2 separate regions of the Homo sapiens genome follow, and region 2 is linked to region 1. The links come from fine-mapping of genetic effects on plasma protein levels. A gene starts in region 1. The other region holds a variant in brackets. All regions are shown on one strand. Distances are between the middles of the regions.

Region 1 (8,567 bases):
AATGTCAATAAACCATTTATCATGCATTTATCTATGTTTCAGAACTCGGGAGGCTACATTCTGTAACAGATCTGTAAAGCAGGTGAATGCTAATATATGCTAAAACAAGAAATTAAAAAGCAAACTTCACCTAAAAAGACCTTTAGAACAAATGGATCCCTTGGTCACTAAAGTATTGAATTTTACAGATAGGGTTTAACTTTTATCTCTATTCTGTACTTTGAGCCAAAACAAGAGAGAATAAATGTTTTTCTGACTTCATCCATATAATTTCATCCTGAATTAAATATTAATCAGAGCTCTATTCATGAGTTAAAGATACTTTCATTGTTCCCAGAAACATATGATTCTAAATGATCATATGATTCTACAATGGAATTTGCTTTATCTCCAGATTGGCTTAACCCAAAACAGATGTTCAGCATAATTTTTTAAAATTAAATACAATATTTGAATAACCTGACATTAGTGCTGAAATGAATCATTCGGGGAACTATTATTTTGTAACTTAAAAATAAATTTTAAGTAAGCATTGTGCAAGTCTCGTAAAACTGGCATCTGCATCCTATAATTTACCATATTTTATTTATGACTTATGGCCTACTTATGGTGGTATAAAAAGCCCACCATTCTGATTATTTATCATTATTATTTATATTCCACTGGCTTGGGAAGTAGCAATATAACTCCGTAGAGACCGATTTTCTTTAGTACCTAGTATATTCCCATGAGTGTCACTGCTTTAGAATATGTGGTAATGGCTCTAGCAGTTTAGATCAAGAAGGTGGCCTTAGCACAGACTAACCAGAGAGAGATCAATGGTTGAGTTTTTCCTTGCTTTCCCAGAATTTCAGACATTAACCAGAGCTAGCTGAGGTTATGTTTTAGAAACACAGTCTGCAGTTGGATCTGGTCTTGAGATCTTTTATTTAGCAGAATGATCCTTTTCTAATAATTAAACACTTTATCAGTTTTATTTACCAAGGAATGAGTTCTAATCTGTCCTTTCATTAGACTTGCAGAATAACGATTACACAGGCAGGTTAATTGCCAAAGATAAGGTTTCACAAATGTGAGGGTCATTTTTAACTTACCAGGTTTCAAAAATATCTAGATAACTTTACAACAAAATGGTTTATAGTCTAGAAATGTCAAGTTTATTTTAAGTTACCCTTCAACTCTATCAGGAAGACATCAGGCGTGTAGAGTCAAATTAAGAGTTTATTAGAATGATTTGTTACTTTCTGACTTCTATATAGCTCTAAGACACAAAATGCAAACTTGGCTATAACATTTTCTTACTTAAATTTGATTCAATTCATTTTTCCCCATCCTGTGAAAATATTGCCTTATGTATAAAAGGCACTGAACCTGCAAAAATAACTTAAAGGAACATGTAAAATAGCAGACTAACATCTGTTGTCCACCCCTCCCCCGAAACACTGAGCCCTCCAAAACAATGTTGTCTTTTTTTTCTGGCGGGGGTTGGGGGGGTGTTGTATTTTAATGTCCCTTTCAGTGAATATATAGAATACTGGGGCAAATGCTGTTCCGTGAATAGGTTCTTTTTCCCTTCAACAGTGTTTGAGGTTGACAAAAGAAGAGGCCACTGGGGCTGGTTAGTCGTAGGTATTAATATAATCGCCTGCCTCACGTGCGGCCCACACTGCCTGCCTTTTGTTCAGCTGTCGCACAACGCCAAGAGGTGAACAGTGCAGTGTGGTCACGCAGCTAATGTTAGACACGGCAGAAAGGCCCTTGCTCCAGAGTCTACTGCACGACTACCTCCCCGTTCACTGTTATGTGACCTGAAAACCACTCGGGTAACTAGGGTTGGGACAGTTGCATCACCTGCAGTTCTACAGTTTGGTGCCTTAAGAACCGAAATGACTTTGGCTAGACAGTGGACATTCTCAGCTAGACAGTGGACATTCTCAGGAAATCTTCATGTCGGTCAACGACAACGATCTTCTACTATAATGAATAGCTCTGAAGATGAGGACCAAATTTGAGCAAGAGTCAAATTATTAAAAGAAAACTCGAAAAGTTGAGGGGTCAATTCAGAAATCACTTCAAGCCGCCAGAAGTGGGTTAAAGTTACTGTCTGCTTCACACAAACCTTTTCCTAACTAGCTTAGAATATCCAGCTTGAATATTGCACGAATATATACAGCCAGGTAAAGAGCAAGCAGCACTTTGAGCTTTCAATACAATAGCACTTAAAGAATTTGGCTCCTGAATAAAGGTGTCAGCAAACCATGGAATTCCCAAACAGAAAAACTCACACTGCGTCTTTATTCTCTTTTCTTAAGGTCTATTGTTAACTGAAGACTCCTTGTCTTTTCAAATTCCTTCATGTGAATGGATGAGGCCAGACATCTGCCAGGATCCGCTCACATTTGCATGCAAATCAGAGACTTCGGGACACATATGGCCCTGGAGCCAATAACACTTTTACTCTAGATTTATACTGATCAAAGTGCCTTCCTGAACTTTCCACTCCTCCAGCCCTAGCTTTTAAAAATGAAATAATGAGCCTATTCCACTAACATGATTTAGATTGTCATGGCAAGACAAAACAAAACATGTTGTCTTTTAGAAAATCCTCCACGCAAAAGCCAGAGTCGGCAGCACCTGTTCCCTCACCCAATTAGAATTCCACTTTTCCTTTACGATTTAGGTTTGGGAATGAAAATACTTACGGCGGGATGGGATTTAGACTCTTAGCCTTTGCCTGTGAGCTTCAAGTGCTTCAGAACCATTTGTACCCCGGCCAGTCGTTCACTCACGGCCAGGCTCTGTTCTTGGCGCTGGGGCCGCGGCGGTGGACACGGCAAGCGAGGTCCCCTTCTCCTGGATCCGGCATCCGGGCCGAAGCGCCTGGTCCGCGTTTCCGCGCGGGCTCCCCTGGAACCGTCCCGGGACACGCGGCCCTCTCGCTGCTGGACTTTTCCCCGAGCCCCAGCTTGCCAGGCAGGGACTCCCTGGGCGGGCGGCGGGGAAGCGCCGAGTCGGCGGCCGCCCACACCCCTCTCCACGCAGCACAAAGGACACTCGCCGGCAAACTTTCCTCGCTTCTGACCCGGGCCGAGCCGGGAACTCAGCGCCAGCTCTGTTCCTGGCGGGGCTGAGGCTTCCCTCACATTCCAGGCCACCTGGCAAACGTCCTGAGGCTGCCACTCCTTCTGGGCTCAAGGCTCACGGGCTGAGGTCTGTCCCCGCGTGGAGCTCAAGGCTCACGGGCTGAGGTCTGTCCCCGCGTGGAGCTCAAGGCTCACGGGCTGAGGTCTGTCCCCGCGTGGAGCTCAAGGCTCACGGGCTGAGGTCTGTCCCCGCGTGGAGCTCAAGGCTCACGGGCTGAGGTCTGTCCCCGCGTGGAGCTCAAGGCTCACGGGCTGAGGTCTGTCCCCGCGTGGACCGCCGAGAGTTCGGTAGATCCTTCCCAAGGCTCTGACTTCAATACTTTCAGTGCCTTGTCAATTATACCCCTTGCCCCTTTCTCTTACCAAGGCCACCGCCAAGACACCCTTTTTCTTTCCTCTCCCCGTCGCCCGCCACCTTCCTTGCCCTCCTCTTGGCCCTCTTTCCAGCTCCCTGGGCCCCCTTTCCGCGCTGCTCTCCAGCCCCAGCTGCCTTCCCCGGTTCACATCCCGGCAGCCCTCCTCCCTCCCCGTCCCCGGGCACCTCCCTCCCCTGGTCGGCCCCTGAAATCCAGCAGGCTCGGCTCCGGTCACTGCCTTTTTTTGCCTGTTTCTATCTGGCCTGCCTTCCCAACTATCGCTCTCCCACACCTTTTTTTTTTTTTTTTTGGCAAGGGGGACGGGGGGAAACGGGGCACTATATTCTCGTTTCCCGACTTCGTCATTTTCCCCAGCTCCGTGAGCCGCGCCCCCTCGTCCCCCTCAGGCCCGCGATCTTACCCTGAGGTTCCCCAGACCCCGTAGGGTCTCCCACGCCACCAAGTTTGCCTCGACTTCCCCTCGCTGCCTCCCACACCTCCTGCCGCGGCGCGGCCGGCCAGGGACTTACCCCGAGGCCCAGCTGGTGGGGGTGTTGGGGTGCGCGCGGACCCGGCACCCACGGCGGCGGCGGCGGCAGCAGCAGCAGGAGGAGGAGAAAGACGAGGAGGAGGAGGAGGACTAGCTGAGCGGCGCCTCCTTCCCAGCCCGCAGCGCGCACTGGCTCCTTGGGGCACCCCCGGGAGAGCACCAAGACCGGAGACTAGGCGGCGACACAGGCAACCGCTGCTGCACGGGGCTGGGCTCAGTCGGCTCTCAGAGGCCAGGGCAGGGGGAGGCAGGACTGGGAAGGAGGGTCGGAGAAGTGGGGTGCAGAGGGCGGGGCAGCGAGCGGCCAGGTCCGGAGGAAGGCGCCCCAGGCGCCTAGGGATGCCGCCGCCCGGGCTGACGCCGTCGGCCCCTCTCCCCGCCAGGCGGGCGCTTGCAGCCGCGGGCGCACGGGCCTCGCCTCGTTCACCGGCTCGTTGCCGGCGCCCGCGGTGCGCCCCGCTTTGTGCTCCCCGCAGCCGGCGTGCACCTGGTGTAAGCAAAGGCGGTCAGCTGATGGGCCGCGCGCGGATTGGCTGCTCCGCCGTCTCCTCCCCTCCCGCCCGACCCTCTTCGCGGCCTCCCGCCCCCGCCCTCGGCGCGGCCCCGTGCTGGGCACCATCTGTGGACCGCCCAACAAAGGCGCAGCGCGGCGGGGCTCGGGTGGCCGGGCCGCGGTCGCCGCTTTTTGTCTAGGGGACGGCAGGCTGCGGCTGGGCAGGGAGGCGAAGCGCACTGCCGGTTTTTAGCAAAAGACAGACCAAAAGAAAATACACGTCCGTGCTAGGAGGCCAGCTAGGCACAATGGGGCCCCATCTCTTTGCGGCGTAGAACTCGGGCTCGGGGGCTGAGAACCAGACACAGTTCGGCCTGGGGCTGTGGGAGCCAAGTTTCGGGGTGAAATCCGACCCTGCGTCTTAAAATACAGGGCGCGTCCTCGGGCTGTGTGTGCGCGCCCGGGGGCGTCCTCCGCAGACCTGGCCCGGGCCGGTGTCCCTGCCGCGGGAAGGAGGATTCGGACGCTTAACTCAGCGGCGAAGTCGCTTCCCATTGGAGGAGGCTTTCCGAAAACGTTTCTGAAACTTTGAAATTACAGCTTTCTGATTTGTGAGGGGTGGAAGTTGTGTTTAAACAGGCGGCGAGGGACTGAGAAGGCAGTGTTAAGTGGAGGTGTCTCCGAGGAAGGGGAGGAGGGTGGGGACGGAATAGGTCTTCGGAAACTGCGCGTGAACCTGCGTCTCAGCTTCAAAGTCGCCAGCCGGAAGCAGGGCTTCAGAAAAGCCTTGGCACCCTTTATTGGGGGAATCGGCTTTAAGCGAAAGCATCATTAGCCCCTCAGTACTGAACAACTTCTGGCAGAGGAACGTGGTGACATTTCATTATGATGTCTAAACTTAGAACTTCTGGAGAATTTGGAAGGATACATTATTCGAGAATCATCCTTTGGATTCTTCAAAGCCACAGGATACATTCAATGTCAGTAACCATATTCTTGATCCCTGTAACATTTATTGGCGTTTCGCTTAGGTCTCTGATAAATGTTTGACGTCTTTGTGTGTCTTCACACTTTGTTATCCTGAAACTGTGTCATGTAGACATAAATGGTCACAGTTTGTCTTAAAAGTCTTTAGGAAAAGGTGATACTAGCACTTGGGCTAGAAGGTCGTGCAGAGCAGAGGAAGAAAAAGGCCCACTGCTGTCTACAAATGAATGGGAAGATTTAAGATCTTTCAAAGCAAGTTGAGTCTAGACCCTTGCCCAAGTTTTGTAACATGATTTTGTCTCTTTCCCCCCTTTTCATGCAGATTATCCATGGAGTTAGCATGCAGATAGCATGGAGTTTGTCTGATAGAAGTTGGGCTCTGGTGGAAGTACGGAAATTGAATGGTCAGGGAAAGATAGAATGCAGGTTTCTTAGGGAGTCTCTATTAGGTTTCCAGCCTGCCTTCCTGGGAGTGGAAGAGAGATGAGGTTGTGCCCTTCAAGGAGGAGCTTTACAGAGGTAGGTCTTGGAGGAGCAGTCGGAGCAATTAATGATGGTGAGAGTTGCTCTTGGGAGGCCAGATCTAGAACAGCCTCCAGGTTTTGGAAGAGACTTCATGAGAATGGTGTGAGTCAGGGACCAAGGTGTGAATTTTGAAACCAGGCCAACACTGCTTAGGTCCCAGCCCTGCAATTTATGAGCTGTGTCCCTAATGGCAAGTCACTTTATCTCTTTAAGGCTTAATTTCCTTGGCTCTAAAGTAGGGTTAATATCAGTACTTATCCCAAAGGATTGTGATGGTTAAGTGGGAGTAAACATGTAAAATGCTTAGGACAGTGCTTAGTATATAGTAAGCATTCAACGACAGATGTAAGCTCTAGGCATTATTAGGCAGGTATTGAAGACTAAAACAAGACATCAATTCAGACAGGTGGGATAATGATTCCGCATGTGACAGAATATCTCAAAGGCACTAGCTGCTCCAGTGGAGGAAATGGACTCTGTCTCTCCACTGTTCGATTCATTTCTTTTCAAATTAGCATATCATTTATTTAAACTAATTTCCCTCTTCCCCAAGGCAAGAGTGAGAAAGGCAGCTTTTCCCATTTCTACTTGACCACTGCATGCATTTGGTTCCAGACAGAGAGAAGAGCATTATCATTAGGAAGAAATGTGTGTCAGGGATGGGGGAAGGAATTTGGGTGAGAGGATGGGGCTTGCTGTGGACAGAAGAGGAAAAATGAGCATGACAATTATGAAAGAGTCTGAAATGTGGTGTAATTATTAGAAATTTGCTGAATTGCCTGAATTGGTAATTGGTCCAAATTTTAGAAATTACCCTTTTTTAACTCTGCAAAGGGGTTTCGGGACTGTCTTGTTAACTGACACTTAAAAGCTCCTTGTCATTGGGATGGATGAAGAGGAAACACGCATTTTTGCATCATTGGACGAAGAGGAATCAATGAACCAGCATAACCAAATCTCTTACTTGCTTCTTGCTTAAAGAGCTCAAATCCATCTGAATTACTCCTAATGAGCTCACCCAGTCCTGGGATCCTGAATTTATTAGTTAGTAAAAAAGCACTTAATAGTTATTTATTAAGGTGTGGTAGAAGACCTTGGAATTTTTGAAGGAGAACGGAATTGGAGACAAGAGCCCAAGAGTTCCCAGGAGAGCAAGGTCTTATTGTTGATGTAAAGAGTTCTTGCCCCTCGATTGGCTGTGTTGAGACACTACAAACCCCTCTGGATTCCCCTACCAGCCCCTTGAGGTTCTTTAGCTTTGGTTTGAAGGAACATTATCATTGGTGTTAGCCTAATTGTACTGATCTATGTGGTAAATGAGGAAAAAAAAGAAAGATGAAACTTCAGAAGACAGTCGTATTTGAATAATCTTTAGAAGAACATCTGTATTTTGAAAAGAAAATTATCATATGCCTCTTAAAACTGCAATTTTTCAAAGTTGAAAATATGTCTCTCTCTAATTGAAATATTAATAGAGTACCGGTAGTCAGAGTTCTTTCCAATTTCTGAACTGAAATTATGATTTTAAAACAACCACCACCAAGCTCTTAGAGGGTGATGACTGTAGCTTAAAATTTTGTGACTATTGTGATCATTGTTAACTTTCATACCAAATGTATTGTTTCTCTAAGAATTTTTGACAATGAGTGGGTTTACTACATATACGTAGTTCCTGTTCTTCTCGGGTTTTGTTTGTTTGTTTGTTTGTTTACTGCATATGAAACATCCCAACACAAAAAAGGGATTAATTGACGTTTCTGTAATTAAAACTAGTTTTTGCATTTAAGCTTAAAAATTTGACATAGAACTAAAGTGACCAACCATCTTAGTTTGCCTGGGAATCTCCAGGTTTTAGTCCTAAAAATCTCAACATCTCAGGTCACACCTTAGTCTTGGATAAACCAAGATGGTGGGCGGTTCTAAATAGAACTAACATTAATAGGTTTATGGTGCTGTTACAATTTTAGTTGAGTTGCAGCTTTGCAGATATATCAAATAATGTTTTATTCCTGACTGAATAAAGGGTCCTGTTTCCACTTGTAGAACTTAGTTGTTGCAGAGATGTTGACAGTCATTGTATTGGTCCATTTTCATACTGCTATGAAGAAATACCCAAGACTGGGTAATTTATAAAGAAAAAGAGATTTAATGGACTCATAGTTCCCATGGCTAGGGAGGCCTCACAATCATGGCAGAAGGCAAAGGAGGAACACAGGCACATCTTACATGGCAGCAGGCAAGAGACCATGTGCAGGAGAACTGCCCCTTAGAAAACCATCAGATCTTGAGACTTATTCACTATCATGAGAACAGCACAGGAAAAACTCACCCTCGTGATGCAATTACCTCCCACTGGGTCCCTCCCACGACATGTGGGGATTATAGGAGCTACAATTCAAGATGAGATTTGGGTGGGGACACAGCCAAACCGTATCAGTCATCAAATCCAACTTCTTTATTTTGTAGATAAAGAAACTAAGCCCTAGAAGAGGAACTCTGCCAGTCTATTTACA
Region 2 (8,567 bases), 33 kb after region 1:
GAGACTTCTCTCCAATTCAATATTAATCTATTAAGTAACATTCATTAGGAATGATTTTTTAAATAAATGCTAATATCCATAACAATACGTGATTATAGAAGATTGTCATATGTTTTATAAAATTAAGATAAACTGTGTCTAAGCCCTTCCTTTGCTCTAAAAGCTTAGAAGTTCTCTTCAGGCTCTCGGTGAATATAGCAGAGCCAAAAGAGAAATTTTTGGAGTCAGAGCAGAGTTCAAACTCTGTGTCTTCCACTTCATCTAGGGAAGGGCTTCTCTACACCTCAGTGTGGTGGTGAGGGTTCTGTGGAATGAGGGGTACGCTAATAAAGCAATTACATACACACATGGCATTACTAATAGATTCTCCTATAAATGGTAGCTTTAATTATTACCAGTAATAAAATTATAAAGAAAGAAATGAGGTTAGCTTAGGGCAACTTATTCTCAGTAAATTCACACTGGCATCCAGTGGAGAAGAAATTTGTTTCTAAATATCCATATATCATTTTTTGATCATTGGTTCTTGTGGTTTGCATGGGTTTAATATCATGTATACTGTCCTGGGGTTTCTGCCGTCTATTCTTGGCTAAAGTTTGTTATCCCACATTTCTGACTCCAGTCCTTGTCAAATCTCCTATATACTGAAATTCTTAAATATTACTAATGGTCTTTTTATTTTCAGACCCCCTAGTCCTGCGTATAATTTTTTTGAGCATGTGAATATGAACACATGGAAGCAGCCAGATATTTCTGTATAATCTCCTGTGAGGCTTCTCTTCAGCTGAAAAATTGGATATGGGGTTAAGAGCTCTGGATCAGGAGTAAAAACCTCTAAATACTGGTGTTAATTTGCTTCTTAACTAGCTGTGTGACCTGAGATGGGCTGTTTAACCTCTCTTAACACTAGTTTTATTCCTTGGTAAAAATAATTGGTTTCTACCAGATGCTGTCCACGAGTTCCTTCTTGTTCTAAAATCTCATAATCATAAGCAATCTATTCAGAATATAAGAGAAACCCTTTGAAATGTTTATAGGGAGGGAACATGCATGGAACTATTCAGTAAACATACAAGTTTCCTGTAATGACTGAGAAAATTGTGGTGGCATGTATATTCTGTAGGAATTCAGAGAAGAGAGGGATTTATGGGTGTCATATTTTTGGGAATGGATTATCTGGAAGAAGTATAACCAAAAGAGAGAATAGAGATGGAAAAGGGTTGATATCGGAGATTGTTTTTAATTCTTGCAAAATGAAGATAAACTGTATCTAAGCTCTTCCCTTGCTCCAGAAGCTTAGAAGTTCTCTTCATGCTGTCTGTGAGTATAGCAGAGTCAAAAGAGAAATTTTTGGAGTCATACAGACCTTGGTTCAAACTCTGTGTCTTCCATTTCATCTAGGGAAGTGCTTCTCTACACCTCAGTGTGGTGGTGAGGGTTCCGTGGAATGAGGGGTGCGTCAATAAAGCAATTACATCTTGTTGATGTTTTAATCCTCTCCAGGATGAATGTTAGTATAAGATGGCTGCCGACCACTCTTTAGAATACTGCCTTGACCTGATCTCAGAAATGGGCAAGATGGTGCCAATTATTTCCGAGCACACCATTTTGAGACAATATATAATTTTAGTTGGAGTGAAACAACATTCAACAAGTATAGCTGTTTTGAAGTGGTCCTCTGGCCTCAGAAAATTTCTGAGTATTTCTTTTTAGCAACTTTTGAAGGCAAACAACTCAGATAATTGCTACTAAGTTTTTGTTTCTTAATGTTCAATCAAGGTTGAGAGAAAAAACTGTGGAGTAGTAGATGGCATCAGCTTAGGGTGCTCTTTTGAGGGATGCAATGAAATATGATGGTTGGGCATATAGGTTCTGGACACACTGGTTTTAACTGAATAAAGTTAGAGAAGTAACTTAACTTTTTTACCTCAGTTTCTTCATTTTTAAAATGGCCTTAATATAAAACCCATCACTATTTTGTTAGGGTGAAATGTGTTATTACCTACAGAGCTTACACTAGTTGTTGGATTAAAGTAAATGCCTACTAAATCTCATTTATTATTATTCTTAGAGTTTTTGTATGCTCCCACAAATGCATTCACATGTCGTTAAAAGAAAACAGGACTTTATGAAAACTGATGAAACATACTTATGAAATAGTATGAAATGAAAAGGAGAAATGTGAAAAATTCTGGGGGTTTCTCCAGGCATAAATTATGATACATGGGACCATTATATATCCTCCTTTATGTATAGGAGGAATGACTGGCCTCTCTGACAGTCAGTCCCATCACATCTCCTTACTTTTTGAATTGAAAATTGTTATGCAATTTTTAAAAAAGATCTTAGAATTTTGAGTGACCTCTCTGGACCTTAGAAATCATTGTATCATATGACTCTAATCAGTGATTTTATCATTTAAGATTAATTTGTTTATTATCATTGGAATGTCAAAATCTAAACATCGTTTTGCCTAACTTGTGAATTCATTTTAGTAGATCAACTGTGTAAAGGATTTCATTATACAATAAAATAATAGGAAATCTGTTTTAAAATGATTAAAAGGATTAGCTAAAGATGAATGTATTCCTCTAGGAGTTTCTGGCAGAAAAAAAAAAACACATTATTCCCATTAAATGGGTGTAATAGATCTTCCTCTTTCAGAATTTCTGCAACTCTTTCATCTTGCATTAACTCAGCTGTGGAAATCAACACCCAAAGGATGTAGTAGGGTGAGACATAACATGTGGGAATGAAGAAAGCATAAAAGGCATTTAAAAAACTAGGGGTACTGAGTAGAAAATTCATCTGCTACTGCAGGGAATCAACTAACTCATAAAGTGCTTCGTGCATTCTTCATTCTGTAGCAGAATTAAAAGCTAGTTCTTCAACTCTTTGTTTTCTTTTTGAAGGCTTCTGACAATCAATTCTCTGTCCACTCTTTTTTTTCCTCTCTCTCCATAACAATTGTTACTGGGGACAAAATAGGGTGCTGGAGGGGAACAGTAAAAAGAAATAATGGTTTGAACTTAGTTCAGTGTACGTTTAGTATAAGGAAGGAAAGCTCTTGGATGGTGAAGAGTGCTTATGCAGTGAAAGGCTCTTTGCTTGGTATATTTAAAATGGGATTAAGTAAAGTACTAGAAAACACATGCCATGCAACAATGCCACTTTGGCAGGAAGATGGCTTAGAGGCCTCCATAGAGGTTTTCCATCTTAAAGTTCTCTATTTTGGTAGCACAAGACATTAGTTCATCAAATGGTGGAGTGGAAATATTGTTTGCTTATGCAAACCGGCTAGATTTGAAGAATTGAAAACACAGCCAATAAGGAGCTACGACACAATGGTTTGTGTACAAAACTAAAAGACCTTGGTTTCACAGTGAGCCTCTTGCTGGCTGCCAGGCTTAGTTCTCTTCCAGGTAGGAAGTCACCTGTGAATTGATTAAATGTGGATAGACTCAACTTTGTTTATAGAGTTGGATGACACTGTAGAGAAGACACATGCAAGTATTTGTCACCAAAGTATTTATTTGTCAATCATTCTCTACTGTCTTTTTTTTTTCCCTCTTGAAATACAACTTGGCCTTCTCTGCAAAACCCATTTTTTTCTACTTGAAGGACAGATCATAGTTGAAAAGACACAACAAATTCCACATACTATCCTTCCACAAAAGGATTCAAAACCACTGAGTATCATGGAAAACAAATTTTTATAACCTTTTCAAATGTTTTGACTTGTAACATCCTTATGTTGGACTTAATTTTCACCTCCTGCCTGATTATCCATCTTCACCTTGACAGGAAGAGCGTGTTCTGCTCTGTGATCTTCTCTCTTAAAATGAGTGTGAAAAGTAAAGGCCACCTGTTACCATTTAGAAGTACAGTTTTTCTTTAAATCCACTTGACATTTCAAGCCTTCACATTTGCTACTTTGCAATAACATTTTCCTTTATGGACTATGTGGTTTCTAGAATGGTGCCATGTGGGTCAAAATCTAGCCAGGAATGAATGGTGTTAAAATCCCTAAGCTTGAGGTTGTTTTAGGTTTTCATCTCCTACAGGGGAAAGATTATACTATGTCCTTATGCAGAAATACATGAAGCAGATTTCTTCTTATATACCAGGTCTGATGAGTTGGAAATGACTGCCTGGATGGCTGCATTGAGATTGGCTATTTATGGACAGCCAAGAAAAAGTCTGCACCAATTTGGGATGTGTGTCCTGGGTTAGGGGTTGGGCAGTGTCCTGTATTAGCCTTTCCTTCTTTAGAAGCCTCTTCCAGGATGTCACTGCTATACTACACACCCCCACATTTTTAGCTGAGAAAGTAGCATGGCCATGGGTGTGTGGCAACAACTTCTGCCCTGCTCCTTCCTCCTCTTTCCCCTATATACTGCCTTAGACTGATGGATATTCGATCCCTGTGCATTTTCCAAACAAAGAGGGACAATTACTGGCCTGGATTGAAAAGCCCAGGCAATGTGATATGTGCTCATCAAGATAAACATATATCTGCAAGCCTTCCCTCTGAGCCTTAGGGGGGTCTTAGTCACCAAAGAAGTGCAGGTTGCAGCAGTATTTGCTCTTGGTGAATTTTCAGAGGCTAGGGTAATTCCACAGCCTGTAAATGGAGACAAGCTTCAGGCTGCAGACTGGGCAGCAGTTGTGGGCAGATAAGAGTGTGTCGTTCC[A/G]TGCCAGAGGTTAATGGGAATTGTCAGTGTGGTGGTGATTTTTCCAATCCTTTGTTCTCATTTTGACAGAGGTTGTGGTCTGAGCCAAACCTAGGATCCTATTTCCAAGAACACCTGTTGCTTCATGGATCAAATGTAAGAGATCCTTCTTGGGAACTCCTATTCCAAATAGCACCATGTCTGTCCGTCGCATACTGTCTACATTCCTGACATACGCTTTCCCCTGGCTGAGCCTTTGGTCACCAAATGGCTAATCTCTTTGCTGCATGTTGTTTTCTTGCAAAGCTTTAAAAATATTTATTTCCTTTTTGTTTCTGAGTAGTATATAAATATACCTAGAAATATATTTCAAGTCAGCACTTAAGTCTCTCTGCCGGCTTTAGCAGAGAGTTCTGTGTAATAATAATCCGTGAAGTAATCAAAGTTCAAGTTTATTTTAATATTTATATTTAGAATACAATCAATCAAATGCACATAAACACACCCACTCAGTACCCAAGTCTCCTCTCTCTCCATGACCGGTCTTCATGTGAGTCCAAACCCGGGAAAACCTGGCCCCTGAAATTATAAATCATTTGTACCCAGTCACTGAATGACTTGCATTAGTTTTCAGTAGATTTTTTTTCCTTCAGCTTATCTGAATAGCTGCAAATTACTTCTATTATTTTTAAAATGAAAATATTTAGTGGACCAATCTATAACATGACAGGTTCCATTTAGCCTAAAGAGAGCAATTTACAATAATAAGATCGTTTCACCTGGAAAAGAGAAAGGGCATCTTGAGAAAGTAAAAAGTCTTGTTGGCTTTGTTTTAAAGGTATTAGCATTGTGTTATTTGTTATCTCCTACAATAATGCCATATCCCACTTATTGAGTGTTCACCATGTGCCAAGCGTTGAGTTAATTTTGCATGCATGATCAGACTTAATCTTCACGGAAATTCCTGAGGCAGTTATAGATTTCTAGTTGATGGATGAAGATACTGAGTTGGAGTGAGAAAGGTGATAAAGCAGCTTACCAGAGGTCACACAGACAAGACGTTGAACTAGAATTTGAACTTAGGTCTTTCTGCTTCCAATGTCCTTGTTCTTTCCTGCTTCCCAATAAAGCAAAAGACCTGGCCTTCGAGCAAACAGTGTTGAGAGATCTCTTTCCAATTATTTAATATCTCAAGTCTTCTTAGTTTTCTGGGCTTGCCTAAGATCTTGAATATAAGTGTCCCTAACAAAAACGAGCCCTTGGTGAGAAGGGTATAGTGAGGGTCCATATCTCCTGGCCATCTAACTCAAGACATTTTCTGGATTTCACCACCTCTTGATAGGAGGTATGACATTGGCAAACCATTTCATAAGACCTTCCTTCGATCACCCTTCCTAGCCACCTTCCATCCTGCCCTCTTTTGTTGCAAAACTCATCTGCAGAGACCAAATCCCTCCTTAACATTTTATTGCACATTGTTTTGTTTTTTATCATGTTTCCCCAAATAGAACCTCTGTCCCTGGAGAAGAAGACTTTATTTCACTCACTGTTGTATCCTCAGTACCTAGAATAGTGTCGTCCATAGTAAACCCTTGCTAAATATTTGTGGGATGAGGGAATGAAAACATAAGGCTTAGTTAGACGGTTCCATTTTCTTGTGCTCATAGGCATTTGAAATTTAGCCAAGAGCCTCTCTCTTTCACATAGCGTATATGATGAGCTGTGGATACATTTTTATGTACTCTCGGGTTTTTGTTTTATAAAATAATTTAATGCATCATTAGTATAGTAATGTTTCATATTCAGGACATATCTATCTGTAAGCCCTGTCCTTTTGAAAACTCAAGCCAATTTGTAATTAAATACGCTTCAGAAATATTGCTGTGATTTATCAAGCAACATCACAGAGCTTGAAAAACATGTTTTCCTCACCTACCCTCTCAAAATGCAAAAAAAAAAAAAAAAAAACCCCATAAAAGATCCATTCTGTTGCATTGCTTGAGCTTTCTGTGAAACCTTTGAAACATTCATTACATTTAGGCAGAATGTGTACATGTTATCTCATGTCAATAGGTCCAGATTTCCCAAGTCCAAAAGGTAGAGGAGAAGAAACTCATGCTTCTACCAGGTTTTGGTGGCTTTGAAGGAGAGAGGAAAAATAGTTCTAGGGTTTTCTGGCTTTGGCTATTCCCTCTGCACAGCAGGATGTTTAAGGATTGGGAGTCAGGCTGCATTACAAACCTTCACAGGAAGCACTATTTACAACGGTGTTAAGTGTCAAATGGTTAAGAAAGTCCATGAGATCTTGTTGCTGGAGAGCAAGCTAGGAAGAAAATCTTTTTATATTCCTAATGTTAATGGAAATGATCTTTCTTGCACTTGGATAAGGGGGGAAATATTTCCTCTTATTTTACTTGCAGAAAGGGGGGCAATTCCCATATTTCATAAAGCCAGTGCATATCAAGTGATCTTCCCTGCTTATGTAGATGACTTATTCTTTTTTTTTTTTGTTTTTTGTTTTTTTGAGACGGAGTCTCGCTCTGTCGCCCAGGCTGGAGTGCAGTGGCGTGATCTCAGCTCACTGCAAGCTCTGCCTCTTGGGTCCATGCCATTCTCCTGCTTCAGCCTCCTGAGTAGCTGGGAGTAGATGACTTATTCTGAAAGGATTTTTCTCAGCCTTTCAGCAGGACTAGACATTCCACTGCCTTTTCTCACCTCCCCATTGTAAGCTTTTGATGTGTGACTCCTTCAGAAAGATCCAAATTCTCATTGACTACTTTTAAGTTAAAGTGTTTACTTAACAGCAAATGATCAATGTTGAGCTAAACAGGGAAGAAATCATCTGTATAGTTACATTTCTTTATATCTCCCAGCACATGTTTGCCTATTTTAAATGCTAACGTGGCAAGCTATGTTGGATAAGCATTCTGGGGTGTCCATGTGTTCGTTATTTTGCAGCATAAAGTGGAGATACTCAATCTTCGAAAATTGCTTTCTGAGATTGGATACTGTATCGTGTCTCGTAACTCATATTTGTTCTTAATAAAAAGGCATTACCCGAGGAATATTCTTGTTATTGCTGGATCAACTCGTTACGAGAAAAGTGGGTTAAGATATATTGACATTTATTCTTTTGGGAAAAGCTGTTCGTGTGTGTGTGTGTGTGTGTGTGTGTGTGTATGTGTTTATTATGCAGCTATTTAACAGTTAGATTGATGTCTTTAGAAAAGGAATGGCTCTTTTACAAGAAAGTCAAGTGTTAAGGGCATGACATGTCAAGGAAGGCAGATCTGGATTTGATTTTTGACTTTAGTTTTCCAGCTTTGGGCAAGTACTTAATCCTGCTATGCCTCCACTTACTTCCTCATCTACGAAATTGGAAAAATAATAACACCAGGTTTAACACAGATTTAGTATGAAGTTTAAATAATTGATTTGTGTAAAGCACTTACTACAAAGCTGAGCACATACTAAGTCCTCAGTTTATGTTAACTTTCGTTATTAGTTCAGTTGGCAAGTGAACAGACAGTGATGCAGACCAGGATTTGGAAAGGGATGGTCAGTGCCCTGTGGGTCCTAATTAATTAATGTTACATCCCCAGGGAAAACTGCTTTGAGTCCCTAAGTTAAGGTAAGCAGCCTCTGGTATACACTTTCATGGCATCTTGTACTTTTTTCTTTATCACAGTTTTAAGACATTATTGGTATGATTATCCACCTAGGGGCTGATAGGGGATGAAAGGCACCCTATCTATTTGGTGCACTGTCCACAGTGCCTGAAACAGAGTGGATGCTCAAACCCATTTGGTGAGTGGACGGACGCATTCAACAAAGAGGTATGAGGAGACCTTGTGTCGCCAGGACCTTCGTAAATGAATGAATGAAGGAAGGAAG

What was found. A credible set is the group of variants that fine-mapping cannot tell apart. PIP is the posterior inclusion probability: the model's chance that the variant is causal. Sun 2018 read protein levels with aptamers (SomaScan).
Region 2: its variant is the best candidate, but not a certain one, in a credible set for the plasma level of the LRRN1 protein (Sun 2018, PIP 0.50).

What each region holds. Positions count from the first base shown.
Region 1 is chr3:3,795,382-3,803,948 of GRCh38, reverse strand. It overlaps LRRN1 (leucine rich repeat neuronal 1), which reads right to left and starts at 4,518. Exons shown (of 2, transcript NM_020873.7): 1 at 4,030-4,518. It overlaps LOC100130207 (a long non-coding RNA gene), which reads left to right and starts at 3,074. Exons shown (of 6, transcript NR_149025.1): 1 at 3,074-3,248. RefSeq lists silencers at 1,370-1,664, 4,198-4,307, 4,448-4,537, 4,548-4,617.
Region 2 is chr3:3,762,036-3,770,602 of GRCh38, reverse strand. The region is part of intron 5 of LOC100130207 (a long non-coding RNA gene); the gene reads left to right. Among named protein-coding and RNA genes, the nearest start is that of LRRN1, 33 kb to the left of the region's middle. The variant A/G (reference allele first, on the strand shown) is at 4,695.